2 separate regions of the Homo sapiens genome follow, and region 2 is linked to region 1. Evidence: fine-mapped expression QTL. A gene starts in region 1. The other region holds a variant in brackets. All regions are shown on one strand. Distances are between the middles of the regions.

Region 1 (8,332 bases):
TCTGGAGCGAGCATTTAGGAGTTTGAACCTATCACCATCATTTCTGCTTGGACAGCAGTGAGTTCCCATCATTTCTCATACTGCACGTGTTCTGAATATAAATGTGCTTTCCATCCTTAATCTATTCAAATGACATTCTCGTTCCTGCTGCAATCTAAATTTTATATAGCCACATAGCACACTTTATGATGCATCGCTTCAAAATATGGTGCTGTAAAATAGACATACTTGATAATAAAATGGGAAAAGTTTTCTTTCAAACAAACATATTTCCCAAGAGATGAAGGAGACTCACGTATGATTCCTGTCGTGAGCAAAATATACAAAGAAATAAACTGGCTACAAGAAACAGAGATGAAAGATCTTTGTGATTTCAACAAGCTATACATTTCTGTTGACTTTATTCATGCTGCTTTGGAGAAAGTTAAAGACTTGCAGAAAGCATTATAAACTCCAATAATGAGGTGTTCAGTGCCAGCATTTTTTTCTTTTATTCCTTAGAGCAACTTTTAAGGGCACGTTTCCAAAGAAAACCCATTTACAAGGGTGGAAAATGAAGATACTGTAATCAGAAAAAAAAAAAAAGTGGAAGTCGTGATGTGGCCATTTTAAAGAGTTAGGTCAGCTAATTTGCATTTTAGCTTATTAATTCCTGAAAGGGTGTTTTGTAAATTGATGTTTAGAGTTGCATGTAAAATGTTACAGTGCCAGTTATGTGTCATGTTCCACTGGCCACACCCATTTTATTTTACATTGGGATATTTGAGAAACCTACAACAATCATGTAGTTTTTTGCTGCCACTAGCTGCCCAAATGGAGCATGCTCGTTAATGGTTTCCTCATGGTGCAGAAGAATTCAAATTGGTGTCCCCAAAGCAGGATAGGTTTATTATATGCACGCTAAACTCTGCAGATGGCAGACTTCGCTTATCAAATTCCACAGAGACATAAGGAAGCAGTAAATGCCAATGGCTGCAGTTTGTGGAATGAGTAGAACCCTCAGTCTGGAAGCAGGTGGAGCTTAGGTTTGAAGGAGCTGTGTGAGTTGGCAAATTACTTACTTCTCTGGGCCTCAGCTGTTTGCTCTGAATAATAGTGACCATCTCCAGGTGATCTTGTCATTATTCAATACAAGATAGCAAATGCCTGTCATATAGCAGGTATCTTGCATGCATTTATTTACTGGGTTTCCTTGCATCCACGTACCGATGCCAGCTTTGGTGACACTGATGTATCTACCTGGTGGTGAGATGGATGGAGACTCATCTGCTGATCGGCTGTTCTTTTTCTTTTCTTTCTTCTTTTTTTTTTTTTGAGATGCAGTCTCACTCTGTCACCCAGGCTGGAGTGCAGTGGCGCGATCTCAGCTCACTGCAACCCCGCCTCCCAGATTCAAGCAGTTCTCCTGCCTCAGTCTCCTGAGTAGCTGGGATTGAAGGCATGTGCCACCACACCTGGCTAATTTTTTTGTATTTTTAGTAGAGACGGGTTTTCACCATATTGGCCAGGCTGGTCTCGAACTCCTGACCTTGTGATCTACCCGCCTCGACCTCCCCAAGTGCTGGGATTACAGGCATGAGCCACTGCGCCCGGCCGACTCATCCGCTGTTCTGTCCTAGGACTTCTGCCAGAGCTTATTGGTGGTAGGAGAACTTGACTTTTTTGACTCTTGGACTGAGGCTTTTCATGGGCCCTACCCTAAAGCTGACCTTTTCAAAAACACATGCCAATACAGAACTTCCTGCTTTCTCAGATGGCTTTAGAATAATAAAATGAAAAGTCATCAGTCGCCAGGTCCCATCTATCTGAAACTTTCAGGCTCTGCTGGCACTGGAGAAGTAGAATGTTTTCAGTGGTTCTAAGAGTTATGCCTTATGTTTTTTTTATTATTATTACTGTGAAGATATTTGCTTTTTAACTAAATGACCTGGGACAGTTCTTTGGAGGGTTACAGAAGTATTAGGGATAACCAGAGTGGTAGGAATTCTGTTAAAGGGGTCATCAACATACTTCCATATTTTTAATCTCCCAGGAGCATGTTTTGTTGATAGCCCTCAACCAAGTTCAGGTTTGCAGAGAATATGTTTAAAGGGGAATAAATGCATAAGGGTGTGACAAGACTCAAAAGCCTCCTTCTAAAGAGACTGCGACTCTACTACAAACAGCACTAATCAGAAACATTTATGGTGAGGGAAAGAAAAAGTCAATATATATATTCTACCTAAATAGGTTTTCTAAAGTTGTTCACTTTGCTTTGCCACACAAAGCAATGCCATGTGTGCTTTTAGAGCAAAATGCTGGAAAGAGGATTCAAAAAGGAGGATGACTGGACAGAATATTAAAGAAGAGGCAGGCACCTGGCAGAGGAAGGCTGAAGATAGAGTAACCAAAACTCAGACCCCGGCTGGATTCGGGAGTCCTGCAAAGCAAGGCTGTCGTGGAGTATGAGGTGGCCAGGCCAGGAGATATTTAAAAAGACCAGAGATCGATAAGCCTAAACGCTGTGGATCTGCCCCTTCCCCCACTCTGTGGGCCGGGTTCAGCACAGGAAAGGGTCCCATTCTCACCCTTTGCTCCTGTGTTCCTCTTTTTTCCAGCTACCCAGGGGACGGCAGGCAGCAGGTGCCCCAATGGTTTCTTCTCTCTGAAGCATCCCTCTGCAGCACCCGCCGCCCCTCTCCTTTCTGGGCAGCCTCCTCTGCAGTCAAAGGCTTCAGGGAGGAGCCGCGGAAAAAAAGAAAAAAAAAAAAAAAAAAAAAGAAAGAAAGAAAGAAAAAAAACGCTGATGGACTTAAGATCTGAGGGTGACCTGAAACTCCGGGGAAAGACAGCTGGCACAAAGGAAACGAATTCATAAATACCTGAGAGTGTGTTTTATGCAGACTCACACACACTGAGTGTGGAACAATGAGGTTTGCAGGGAGCAGGTTAACAAAATAATCCATTCTGCCATGCTTCATCTACATATGGGTAATTGGGAGGAGACAACTCTATGGCTTATCTGGGTCCTTGTTCCACCCTCCGCCTCCAGAGAAGCCTATTCCACCCTTGAATTTCATGAGTGAAAAGACCAAGGATAGCTAGGCTATGAAAAGTCAACAGAGTAAGTACCCTACCAAACCTGCCAGGGACAAACAATATTCAGGACAGCCTCATGACCTTAGGCTTGAAATCTAGAATATTTGGGCATGGATGGTCCTCTGAGATCACTTAGTCTTGATAGATTTAAACTACTAATTTCAATATTTGTGAATTTGCATTATTTGCGACAACAGACATTGTTTAGAAACCCGAGGAAAGTTATCTGCTGCAGTCTATCATGAGGACGGTGGGCTATCACAATCACAGGTATTTTTTTTGGGGGGGGGGATGAGAAAGGGCCTCTGAGGATAAGCCTCACCCCATCCTTTCCTCGGGAGAGGAGTGAAATGTCTCCAGAAGCAACTGCACCACTGCAAATACTTCACCCTCCAAGTATCACAGGGGAAGCCATTCCGGCTTCTCTATTTGAAAACAGTTACCATATTCCCCCTCAGTTTGCCTCTTAAAAAAAACATAAGTTGCACATCAAATGCTGCGATATACAAATAAAACAAAAACTAAATGCTTGCTCAGATAAATCTTAGGTGTTTCGTGTAAATCTCTGCAATCCCTCCATGAAACCTGGGGGACTCCTAACATCATGCGTGTGAAAATGCCCTGCAAACCGTAGGGTTGTATCCACGTGCGCTACCGCGTGCGCCAGTTTCAAGCATCTGGGTGCTTCCTGAAGGAAATCCATGCATTCCTGACTGCATCTGTTTTCGGGTTATTACATTGTATCGGGGGAAGAGTCACGCGGCTATGGCTATTTTCTATCCGTTCCTGAAGAAGCCTGGGTGCCGAGTTCTCCTCCCCAGAGACCACACCCAGCGCTCAGGGCTGGCCGCAGCGGCTTCCCTGAAAATCAGCCAACTGCAAGGCTTATCGAAATCATCAGGTCGTGTGCTACACATGTGTAAAAAGAGGAAAGCGGACTTTAAATGTGCTGCGGTTGGTGGTAGCAAGCAGGAATTTAGCTTGGTGAGGATCCAGGCAGCTTGAAGCTCCCGGCTGCGGAGCGCGCGGCTGCCTCAGCAAGTCAGTCTCTGTGTTTCCAACTCTTTCTCTGCCCTCCACCACCCACACACTGCAACACGTTAAAGCCATCTGCGGCTTCATTCTCAGTTAAGAAATGTGAAAATCTAGAAACACTAACAGGCGGATTAACTGCTGTAAAGGTTTAAAAATGCTAAACCAATACCTGCAGTAGTGCCGCAGTTTCACGAGTGTGTGTGTGTGTGTGTGTGTGTGTGCGCGCGCGCGCGCGCACTCGCGCGCACATTCCCTATGTGTTAAGCAGCTCATTAAAGAAAAAGAAAAATAATCAGGAGAAAGGAAGATGAATTGCAGAAAGTGCCAGAAAGCTAGAAAGAAATTAAAACTCTTCTCCATACATACTGCATACACATAACCTAGCCTATTTATTTGTATCTAAAATTCCCTAGCCGCACCATCACCGTAAACACCAAGGGAAAAAATTAAGGAGGTTCCTGGTGGGAAAAGGGCGAGTTGGGGGGACAGGGTGTCTGCGAGGTGACGGGATACAGAAAACTAGGGTGTCAAAAGGGAGCAAGAACCTGTTTTGGGGGCAACTTAAGGATCCAAGTGTCACGGGGTCTGGGCAATGCAGGACGGGAGGGGCTGCGTGAGTGAGTACAGAAGGGAAATGAGTGAGGGGGCATGGGATCTCAGAGAAAATCAGGGCCCTCTGAGCAAAGTGGAAAGGACGACCGCCGCAGCTCCTCGGGCCGTAGCTCGACCCCGCCTTCCCTTTTGCGCAGAATCCTCGCCTTGGCTGCAGCAGCGCGCTGCCCCCACTGGCCGGCGTGCCGTGATCGATCGCAGGCTGCGTCAGGAGCCTCCCGGCGTATAAATAGGGGTGGCAGAACGGCGCCGAGCCGCACACAGCCATCCATCCTCCCCCTTCCCTCTCTCCCCTGTCCTCTCTCTCCGGGCTCCCACCGCCGCCGCGGGCCGGGGAGCCACCGGCCGCCACCATGAGTTCCTTCAGCTACGAGCCGTACTACTCGACCTCCTACAAGCGGCGCTACGTGGAGACGCCCCGGGTGCACATCTCCAGCGTGCGCAGCGGCTACAGCACCGCACGCTCAGCTTACTCCAGCTACTCGGCGCCGGTGTCTTCCTCGCTGTCCGTGCGCCGCAGCTACTCCTCCAGCTCTGGATCGTTGATGCCCAGTCTGGAGAACCTCGACCTGAGCCAGGTAGCCGCCATCAGCAACGACCTCAAGTCCATCCGCACGCAGGAGAAGGCGCAGCTCCAGGACCTCAATGACCGCTTCGCCAGCTTCATCGAGCGCGTGCACGAGCTGGAGCAGCAGAACAAGGTCCTGGAAGCCGAGCTGCTGGTGCTGCGCCAGAAGCACTCCGAGCCATCCCGCTTCCGGGCGCTGTACGAGCAGGAGATCCGCGACCTGCGCCTGGCGGCGGAAGATGCCACCAACGAGAAGCAGGCGCTCCAGGGCGAGCGCGAAGGGCTGGAGGAGACCCTGCGCAACCTGCAGGCGCGCTATGAAGAGGAGGTGCTGAGCCGCGAGGACGCCGAGGGCCGGCTGATGGAAGCGCGCAAAGGCGCCGACGAGGCGGCGCTCGCTCGCGCCGAGCTCGAGAAGCGCATCGACAGCTTGATGGACGAAATCTCTTTTCTGAAGAAAGTGCACGAAGAGGAGATCGCCGAACTGCAGGCGCAGATCCAGTACGCGCAGATCTCCGTGGAGATGGACGTGACCAAGCCCGACCTTTCCGCCGCGCTCAAGGACATCCGCGCGCAGTACGAGAAGCTGGCCGCCAAGAACATGCAGAACGCTGAGGAATGGTTCAAGAGCCGCTTCACCGTGCTGACCGAGAGCGCCGCCAAGAACACCGACGCCGTGCGCGCCGCCAAGGACGAGGTGTCCGAGAGCCGTCGTCTGCTCAAGGCCAAGACCCTGGAAATCGAAGCATGCCGGGGCATGAATGAAGCGCTGGAGAAGCAGCTGCAGGAGCTGGAGGACAAGCAGAACGCCGACATCAGCGCTATGCAGGTGCGGCACGGCCAGAAACACAGGGGGGCGGGGGACTCGAGCAAGGGGGGGAGTTGGTGCGCCCAGAAAGTGGAGACCAGGGGTGGTGCGGCTGCACGCAGCTCTTAGGGATAGGGCTTGGCTCCTTGGCCACTGTGTGGGAGGGGTGGGGCACTTGAAGGGCGTGAGTGCGGGCGCCACTGTAGTCTGGGAGTGTGCTCCGTGCTGCTGCACCGGCGTTCCGCATTAAAGCTGCCCAGCCCTTGTTGGGTGGGGGAGGGGAAGACGTGGGAATTGGGCGTTGCCTCCGGCCTGCAGTGAGATCAGCTCTCTACTGACCTGCATTAACCACAAGTTACTTTGCAGCAACTATCGGATCATCTAGTTAATAAATAGTAGAGTGAACAACTCTCAATTAATTCTGAAGGATTACTGTGACCAGCATGCTTTATGACTAGTTTTACCAACCACTCCCTTCCTTTATTTAGTAGGTAGACAGGAAAATAGTCAACATTGTTTTAGGTAGTTAACTAGTGATGTTCATAGTAAACCATTTCCTTTTACCTTTTTTTTTTCTTTTTTTCTTTATGTGTAAAATCTTCTACAACATTTCTGTTTAAACATCTCCATCTTCTGGGGAGTAGAAAAAATACAATTTTAAAAAGATCTCCATTTTAAAACATCTCCATCTTCTGGGGAGTAGAAATTTTTTTCTTCTTCTGGGGAGTAGAAAAAATAATTTAGATACATAGGAAATATTTCATAGAAAATAATTTTTTTCTTTTTTTTGTTTACATCTGGCTATTTTCTTCTCATAAAGAAAGGCATTAGTTTCCTGGCATGTAACCCAGCTAAAGAAGAGTTAATCAGTGAATGAGAGACACAGTTTTTCTATCAACTTAGTCTGTTTGCATGCATTTTATGATGATCATTAAACAGTATTAAGTAAAGAAACAGAAGAACAGAATTTTCGTCCATCTTTTTTTTCATCTCAGGCTTCATGAACTTGGGTATTTTAGGCATGAAGGTTTTTCAAAAGATACAGGAAGTTATTCTAGGAGAGATTTTATCAAAGGTGTGCACCTTGATTTTAATCGAAACTAGGCCTTTGCAACTACACTACAGTAAAATAATAGAAGGGATTTATGCTCGGATTTTTTTTTTGTTTTATTTTTGTCTTCAAACAGGACACGATCAACAAATTAGAAAATGAATTGAGGACCACAAAGAGTGAAATGGCACGATACCTAAAAGAATACCAAGACCTCCTCAACGTGAAGATGGCTTTGGATATTGAGATTGCAGCTTACAGGTGAAAATAGAGGGGCAAAGACAGCAGCCATTAAACCTTAGGAAGAAAATCAGATCCCATTTAAAGTTATGTTGGATCAGAAACCTTCAATAATAGTCCTTTTGAAATAATGAAGTGTTAGTTTTTGGCTTCTTCCAAGAAGAGGGTATTTAGATATATAAGAATTTAACCCTGTAATTAGGAGTCCTGTTTTTATCTTGTCATTACACTTTAAATCTAATAGGATGATTTATTTATATTTTTTCTGGTCTCCATCAAAAGATCCCCAGGCATTAAGTATTGATAAATCCCAGCCCTGCTCCTGCTTGCCTTTGTGTTTAGGGTACTCAGAGCAAGTTGTGAAACACAGGTGTTTTTTAACCTCACCTTGCATCTGCATCCCCAGGAAACTCTTGGAAGGCGAGGAGACCCGACTCAGTTTCACCAGCGTGGGAAGCATAACCAGTGGCTACTCCCAGAGCTCCCAGGTCTTTGGCCGATCTGCCTACGGCGGTTTACAGACCAGCTCCTATCTGATGTCCACCCGCTCCTTCCCGTCCTACTACACCAGCCATGTCCAAGAGGAGCAGATCGAAGTGGAGGAAACCATTGAGGCTGCCAAGGCTGAGGAAGCCAAGGATGAGCCCCCCTCTGAAGGAGAAGCCGAGGAGGAGGAGAAGGACAAGGAAGAGGCCGAGGAAGAGGAGGCAGCTGAAGAGGAAGAAGGTATGATAAGAAAAAACCCCTGCAACTTCAAGTGTAAACTGGGTGTGGAGATTTGTTAGGAGGTGGATAAGACAAATGAAGCCTTGCTCATTTATTCATATATGACATTAGAATCATAAATAAATTTTCTGTTTGTTTAGCAAAACTTTCCTAAGGCATCTACTCTGAATGAGGTGATTGGTCAAAATTTTCATTTTTTAATATAATCATTTAA
Region 2 (8,332 bases), 30 kb after region 1:
TGCCAAGGTTGAGGATGCATACCTGTGACACAGCCTCAAGAGGTCCTGACAACATGTTCCTAAGGTGGTCAGAGCACAGGTTGGTTTTATACAGTTTAGGGAGACATCAGACATCAATCAACATATGTAAGAGGAACACTGGTTTGGTCTGGAAAGGCAGAACAACTCAAAGCAGGGAGGGGGCTTACAGGTCACAGGTAGAAAAGAGACAAATGGTTGCATTCTTTTGAGTTTCTTTTTCTTCTTCTTCTTTTTTTTTTCTTTGAGATGGAGTCTCACTCTGTTGCCCAGACTGGAGTGCAGTGGTGTGATCTTGCCTCACTGCAACCTCTGCCTCCCAGGTTCAAGTGATTCTCATGCCTCAGCCTCCCAAGTAGTTGGGATTACAGGCACGTGCCACCACATCTGGCTAATTTTGGTATTTTTAGTAGAGATGGGGTTTCACCACACTGGCCAGGCTTGTCTCAGACTCCTGACCTCAAGTGATCCACCAGCCTCGGCCTCCCAAAGTGCTGGGATTACAGATGTGAGCCACCATGCCCAGCCTCTTTTGAGTTTCTGATTAGCCTCTCCAAAGGAGGCAATCAAATATGCTTTTATCTCAGTGAGCAGAATAGAATGGGAGGCAGATTTGCCCTAAGCAGTCCCCAGCTTGCCTTTTCCCTTTAGCTTAGTGATTTTTGGGGCTCCAAGATTTATTTTCTTGTCACAGGCCAAACTTAAAATATTCCAAGAGGCAGCTTTAGGCTAAACTTGATTTAACAGTGATCAAATTATCTTTTATTGGCCCCATGTTTCAGATGAGAAAAGGGATGTGAAGAAAAGTAGGATGAGTCGCCTAAAGTCACATGGTGAGTGTGCCAGTCATCTTTCAATGCTTGTTCTCAGCTCAATTTCTCACACTGACCCTGCTCTACTCTTTATCACAGGAGTTGCATAGTTCAGGCTCCCTTCTTGATTAGATTGCATATGCTACTGGGTCATGGGAGGAACCAGAGAAAGGGTAGAAAAGGGAGGAGGGACAAATCAGAGAATACCTGCCACCATCACCTCCCCACCTTTCTTTCAGGCCCCACGTCCAGCAGAGGTAGTGTCTCCTTTTCCTGCTTGAGTTCTTGAGTATGACTTCCCTTGGACACCTCTCCCCTCCATGGTCTCAGTTCTCACCAGGCTGCCCCTGCTGCCATAATTCTAGCTCCCTCTGGATGATCCTGGGTTCTGGTCTCTGGTAGCAACATCTACTTCTTGTGTGCTGCAACCCCAGAGGTGATAATGGCTTTTTTCCATTGCTAATTTCTGAGTTGCCCCATTATCCCCTGTGATGAACTGAACTGTTCCCTCTCCCCCACCCCAAATTCATATGTTGAAGCCCTAAGCTCCCAATGTTACTGTATTTCGATATAGGGCCTTTAAGGAAGTAAATAAGGCTAAATGAGCTTTAAGGGTAGGACCCTGATCTGATTGGATTAGTGTCTTTATAAAAAGAGACACTGGAGAGCTCACTCTTGCTCTGTCATGTGAGGACATGATGAGAAGGTGGCCCTCTGCAAGCCAGGGAGAGAGCCCTCACCAGAAACTGACTGTGCTATCACCCAGAGCTTTCTGTCATTTAAGTCACCAAGTCTATATTTTGTTATGGCAGCCCACACTGACTAGAGTTGAATTTGCTTCTTACCTTTCCCTTAACTTGTGGTATATTTCCTTGTATTACATTCCATTCTCTCTGGAGCTCTTAGAATGTTCTTTCACCTCCTCCTCCTCCTCCTCTTTGTCCTCCTCCTCTTCCTCCTCCTCCTCCTCTTCCTCCTTCTCCTCCCCTTGACTGGCCCCTAACATGCTAAGTCCACTAGGAAGTTTAAAACTGGAAGTTGAACCAAGATCTAATTGGACATCAAAATCTGTGTTCTTAAAAGCTACACTGTACTTTCTAGATTGTTTTGGTTGTCTGAAGAGATTTGAGGAACAGCCAAGTAAATAATATGAAAGAGGCTCTGTTTGATTAATGACACTAAGAGGGATGGAAATGGAAAAAAGTTTCAAGTTTTCAGTGGTTCTAAATGTGACATTTTAGACCCATCCTTTGTAATGACAGGCTGGAGGTTGGGGGTCTCTGTGGAGAGACAGCATTCCAGTTAGTGGCCCTGCTGTCATGGACAGCAAGAGGGGTAGGGATATTGTACTGATGGAATGTGGACATTGGTGTTCCTTGACAGTATCTTGAATGGTATCATGATATGGCATGCCAAGCCCTGAAATATATATTAGCTTGGCAGTGAATATTTATGTTTTTCTTTTCTGATAACACATGGAGTTATAGGCTGTTAATGTGGGCAAGGTACATGTCTTTAATGTTGTTAACTATTCTCATTCTTTGACAAATCTTTCATTTCTCCCAAGCAATATCTTGTTCACATCTGTTGCCAGAAAAAGGGATTCCAATCCAGACCCCAAGAGAGAGTTCTTGGCTCTCATGCAGAAAGGAATTAAGGGCAAGTCCTTGAGTACAGTGAGAAGACAGAGTTTATTGAAGCTGCTCAGTAACAGAGTAGGCCATCCTCAGAAAGCAAGAGGAGGAATATGCCATCTTTGTTTTAAACTCTCCTTATGTAGGGGTCTTATCTATGTAAAAGTAAGCTATGTCTATGTTTAGGTGGACTGAGAGCATGACAACATTTATTACTTTGTTGACTTAAAGAAAGTTTTACTTGGCATTTTAGTGAGTAAGTACATCAAAGCATGACTATAGCTATCATAAAAGCACACACTGTTATGTGATAGTGTATCACATAACTTTATCTTTAAAGTTATGGGATCTTTAGTGTATCACTTTTCTGGCCAGAAACCTCTGTGGCTGGAGGCACCTTTGCCTGAGTTCTTATCTTGTGTACAGGAAGAATGAGGTATGCTTACAAGTAGAGGGTGAGCAAGACAAAGAGAAGCTTTATTGAGTGTTAGAACAGCTCGGAGGAGACACACAGGGGGCAGCTCCTGTCTGTAGGCTGGTCATCTGATTCAGTGTTCAGCTCTCAGCAGAGGGGAGGCCCTGGAGTGGGTGGTTCCTCTCTGCAGGCAGGTGGTCCTGTTTGGTCTGCAGCTCTCAGCAGAGAGGAGGTCCTGGGGAGGTTAACTCCTCTTTGCAGCTGGTTGTCCTGTCCTTTGCTCTGTTCTGGCTGAGCCTGCGGCTTTTACAGGCCTCAGAGAGGGGAAGTGCATGCTAATTGGTCCATGGGCAGCCACGAGTGGGCCTAGGATAAAGCACCATGAGTTCCCCCTCCTTTCTACAGGACTGGCAGCCCAGCCTCCAGGCTTCAGGCGTGCCCTAGCCTGAAGGTGAGGCTTCATTGGGGATCTACCCACTTCCACCCAGGAGCCTGTCTGCCTCCCACAACCATCTATTGCACCAAGGGACACCTGCAGGGCAGCACCTAGCTGCCCTCAGCTCCCCTCAGCTTCCCCTCTCATGCTCCTCAGCTGATCAGCACCCAAAGTCTGGAGGGGGCCAAGATGGCAGGAGGCTGGCATGTCAACACTTCCCCAAGCATGTGCATACACAGCCAGGTTGTGACAGCACCTGGGTTTGGCCCCAACTCTGGTCCGAGATTGAAGCGCGTGCCAGGGAGAGGCCAGGCAGCAGGAACAGTCACTTCCAAGCCTGCAAGTGCAAGAGTGCAGGGAGGCCTGGGTCTGCAGCCTTGGTTTGGGTGGCTGCACCTACGCAGGGTGGGGGGTGGGGTTTCTGTGTGCTCCTGGCTCCCAAGAGAATAGGGGTGCCTGGGCTGCAGCTGTGACTGGGGCGGCTGCAGTTGCACCTGGAAAGCTCCCCCTCACCAGGCACGTGACCTGGCCTGGCCCTATCTCAGCGGCCCCAGGGCAGAAGCTGCTGGGGGGAGGGTGCTGTCTGCCTCCTCCTGCGCCCTCCCTGTAGTGGCCAGTGTGATGGCAGATGGCTCACTGCTGCCATCAGTATTGGTACATCTGGACATTCTGCTGTCACAGAAGTTTGTCCTTGCTGTCATGACTAAGCTGCTTCCTTAGCCATAAACATCTTATGACCATGGGTTGTGACTGGTGAGGAATGTGCCTTGCTAGTTTTAAGATGGAGTTGATTTTCAAATGATGGCACCCTGGCTCTCATGTGCTCCTTTTCCCCTAACACTTCTGTCCACCAAAGTTGAGGAGGAAGCATATACTTTGGGTGACTTCATTCACTTTTCCTTCCTTGGCCTTACTTTTTCATATGTCTCGATGGTGATTTTGAAATTCATGTGTTTTCTTGAGCAAATCCTGTAAGCAAATTCCTGACAAAGAATTGGCAAAGCAGTTTGCTAATTGCCAATGAGAAAGTGTTACTTTAGAATCATTTATGGCATATTTAATGGGTGGCTGATGAAGAATGGAGATCGGCATTAGCTCTGCAAATGTCATGGACACACGATTTCCTTCTAATGGTAATATTCATTCGAATATGCCAAGGGAATGAACTCAGTGGGTGGACATGGTCAACTGCTTTCCCAGGAACATGGTGATTATTAAGCTTCATAATCAACAATGCCCAGCAAAGGAAATTTAATCTCAAACTATGATAGTAACAGATGACAGTGCGTAGGATGTGAAAGTGCCATACAAATTTGTCCAAATTTCTAACATGTGACATTCAAGGCATTCTTTATTAGAACTGTCCAAACCTGTCTAATTGCTGATGCATAGAAATAATTTCTCTTGATGCTTAATCACTTTAATCCAGCCTAAATACTTCCTTCGTTGCTATCGCTGAAGAACAAAGTGTCAATCAAAGGCGATAGGCAGATACATGTTGCTGCTCCCCATGAAACTGGTTATGTGTTATGGGTGAATAACTACTAGAAGAAAAACTTATTTGTTAGGGCATTGTCTACTTAAGAATCTGAGAAATGGAAAAATAGAGACATGAAATAGCTCATGCGCCAATCAGAATTTTAATTTATTTTATTTTGTAAAGAAGATACCACAAAATAGTGTTATATATCCAGGCACAGATTAGTGAAACCTAGACTGTAACCTAGGGTAACTCATTGTTGAGTTTAAAATTCCTGCCATCTATATAGCAATGAGTTTTAAAGTAACACTTCCCCAGATCAGTTAATTTTGACATAAATGAAAAACTGGAGAATGGGGACTACTTGAGACTGGCTCGGCTCAACAGGTAGAAGGTTCATTCCAAGGGTGAACA[A/C]GTGTAGTTACATATGTTTGCTGTTTTGTCTATTAAAGTATAAAGTAGAAAAGTCATGGGTTTGATATAAAAAAAGCCTGGGTTTATTATGCCCAAACTTCTGCAAAAAAATGGTGTTAAAAATAATACCTGCATGTATGTTTGTTATGAGAAATCATGGATTAATTACAGGTGATGTGCTTAGAAGAGTACCTGGTAGGTAGTAAACTCAACAATGGTCACTACTGCTATGAGCTGCTTGGATTTGGACATGGCCATCTGTTTTAGTCCATTTGCGTTACTCTAAAGGAATATCCGAGGCTGGGTAATTTATGAAGAAAAATGGTTTAATTGGCTAACAGTTCTGCAGGCTGTATAAGCAGCATTTGTGCTGGCATCTGCTTCTGCTGAGGTTTCAGGAAGCTTACAATCATGGCAGAAGGCAACGGGGAGCCAATATATTACGTGAGAGTTCTCGAGCAAGAGAGTGAGGTGGGAGATGCCACACATTTTTAAACAACCAGATCTCATGAGAACTCACTCACTGTGGCAAGGACAGCACCAAGTTATTCATGAAGGTTCCGCCCCCATGACCCAAACACCTCCTATCATGAGATTTGGAAGGGACAAATATCCACACTATGCTACCTTCATCTCTCTGAAAGTCCATTCTGGGGAAAAGGGAAGTAGGATTTATATGACTCCCTGGAATTTGCATCAGTGGGTGAACGTTACAGGGGATCAGAGATTAGAACAATGTAAAGAAGTTGGACTGCAAACAGTCCAAGTTATCTGTTGGGATGGCTTGCAGCAAAGTAACTTCCCTGTCACTGTAGATATTCAATTATAGGTTAGGCAGCTGCTTTTTAGGCATAAGAAATGTGGGTTAAATATTATCAGCTAATTCAACCTTTAGGGTTTTATGATTCTGAGTAGCATATATATAGTAAGTAAAGTTTAGTGCGAAGGTATCTACTCTTCTACTTCTTGAAGCTTTGCTACAGGTTTAATTTTTGTGTGTATCTCTTATTGACATGGTAATTAATATACATGGCTATTTTAGTTATTACTTGTATTTATTTGTTTATTTTTATTTATTTATTTATTTTGAGATGGAGTCTCACTCTGTTGCCCAGGCTGGAGTGCAGTGGTGCGATCTCAGCTCACTGCAAGCTCTGCCTCCCAGGTTCATGCCATTCTCCTGCCTCAGCCTCCCAAGTAGCTGGGACTACAGGTGCCCACCACCATGCCTGGCTACTTTTTTGTATTTTTTAGTAGAATCGGGGTTTCACCGTGTTAGCCAGGATGGTCTCGATCTCCTGACCTCATGATCCGCCTGCCTCGGCTTCCCAAAGTGCTGGGATTACAGGTGTGAGCCACCACGCCTGGCCAGTTATTACTTTTAAAACGAATATTAATGACGGCAATGAAAATTTACCACTAATTAAGTGCCTACTATTTGTCAGACATTGTTATTCTGTGTCTTATATTTGTAATTTTATTTGGGGCCACTGAGAAGTCCAGTTCAGAAGTAACTAGGCAGCCATAGTTAGAAAGAAATCTGGGGAAGAGGGAGGTCAGTTTTCTATTTCTCTTGCTGATATTCATACATTATATACTTACATAGATAAAAGTAAATTTTTTTTTTTTTTTTGAGACAGGGTCTTGCTCTGTCACCCAGGCTGGAGCACAGTGGCACAATCATGCTTCACTGCAGCCTCGACCTCCCAGGCTCAAGCAGTTCTCCCACCTCAGTCTCCTGAGTAGCTGGAATACAGGTACACGGCACCATGTCTGGCTAATTTATTTTTCTTTTTATTTTTTGTAAAGAGCAGGTCTCCCAGTGTTGTCCAGGCTGGTCTCCAACTGCTGGGCTCATGCGATCTCCTCCCACCTCACACTCCCAATGTGCTGAGCCACTGTTTCCCGCCCAAAAGTTAATAACTTTTAACTTTTTGTTCTTCCAAATGTTAGCACACAGTATTTTAAGTGCAAATTCTCCTTAAGCTGAATTACTGTTTTTGGATAAGAGTAAGTTTTTGACATATGAATCGAGGAAGATATAAACGCATCATCACAGAATTCAACATACACTTGAATTTTCCAAGTTAAAATGGGAGGTGTGGAGGTGTTGTCACTTGTATAGAGGGCCCAACCTTCTAGATCCCAGGGCAAAGAAGGCTCTTTGTGCTATACTCCGTGGTTTCAACTAATCTGTGATTTTCCAGAAGAGATGATGAGCAATTACAATTAAGCATATTCCAAAGCACTAATGCAAACCAGTAATTTTACCCTCCTCACCGAAATTTATTTGAAATTTGAGAACCAATAGGAAAAGGAGCCCTTTTCAGTCCTTATCTCTTTTTGTTGTCAGGGTTTACTCTCTTAGGAATGTGAGAACACCAAAAGTAGAACCTATGATACTTGAAGTTGGCCCCTGACTTGTGATCTTGTGATCTCAATGCAGAATCAAAAATTCCCGGTGTTTGCCTTCTGGACACAATGTTGTCACTCGAATTCTGGGGCCCTTGATTTTCTGTTCTCCTCCCACTACCCACCTCACCCACCCACATACAAAACAAGACTATAGCATGGGCCTATGTAAGTGGTCCTTCCTACTTAGCCCTTTAGAATGATTATGCTTTTCATAAGCTTAAAAAAAAGCCTTTTTATGTAGTCGGCTGTTAATTTTTTTTCAACTCTGTTCTCTTCTAAGATAAGAACGCTAATTAGAGTTAGGGAATGATTTAAGGAGCATTACCTAAAATGAATACCTTATTGAAGATATGATGTGGTAACTTTTCAAAATACCTCAAATAAGTCAAAGAGAATCCTGAAAGCCCTGCATTATGGTGTTGAACACAGTTAGCATGGATCTGGGAATTTCATGTCTTCAGAGGCCTAGCACAAAAATATTTCTCTCTCTTACTCTTAATATGGTTTTAAATAATTTCCATCAATAAACTTTTTTTTTTTTTTGACGCGGAGTCTTACTCTGTCGCCCAGGCTGGAGTGGAGTGGCACGATCTCAGCTCACTGCAACCTCTGCCTCCCAGGTTCAAGCAATTCTCCAGCCGCAGCCTCCCACGTAGCTGGAATTACAGGTGCCTGCCTCTATGCCGGGCTAATTTTTGTATTTTTAGT

Direction of the effects. Positions count from the first base shown, and alleles are read on the strand shown. Sizes are in standard deviations (SD) of each study's normalised expression.
In carriers of allele C in region 2, the expression in esophagus mucosa of the gene that starts at base 4,982 in region 1 tends to be lower than with A alone (large effect, 1.3 SD a copy in GTEx).

Evidence for each region. PIP is the estimated chance that this variant, and not a neighbour inherited with it, causes the effect.
Region 2: its variant is the best candidate, but not a certain one, in a credible set for the expression of NEFL in esophagus mucosa (GTEx, PIP 0.63).

Annotation. Positions count from the first base shown.
Region 1 is chr8:24,953,262-24,961,593 of GRCh38, reverse strand. NEFL (neurofilament light chain) reads left to right here and starts at 4,982. Exons shown (of 4, transcript NM_006158.5): 1 at 4,982-6,122; 2 at 7,289-7,413; 3 at 7,799-8,118. The coding sequence starts at 5,079. It overlaps MIR6841 (microRNA 6841), which reads left to right and starts at 7,727; the gene lies at 7,727-7,798. RefSeq lists an enhancer at 6,232-7,431.
Region 2 is chr8:24,923,224-24,931,555 of GRCh38, reverse strand. It overlaps LOC112268023 (a long non-coding RNA gene), which reads left to right and starts at 6,846. Exons shown (of 3, transcript XR_002956698.2): 1 at 6,846-6,966. The variant A/C (reference allele first, on the strand shown) is at 5,210.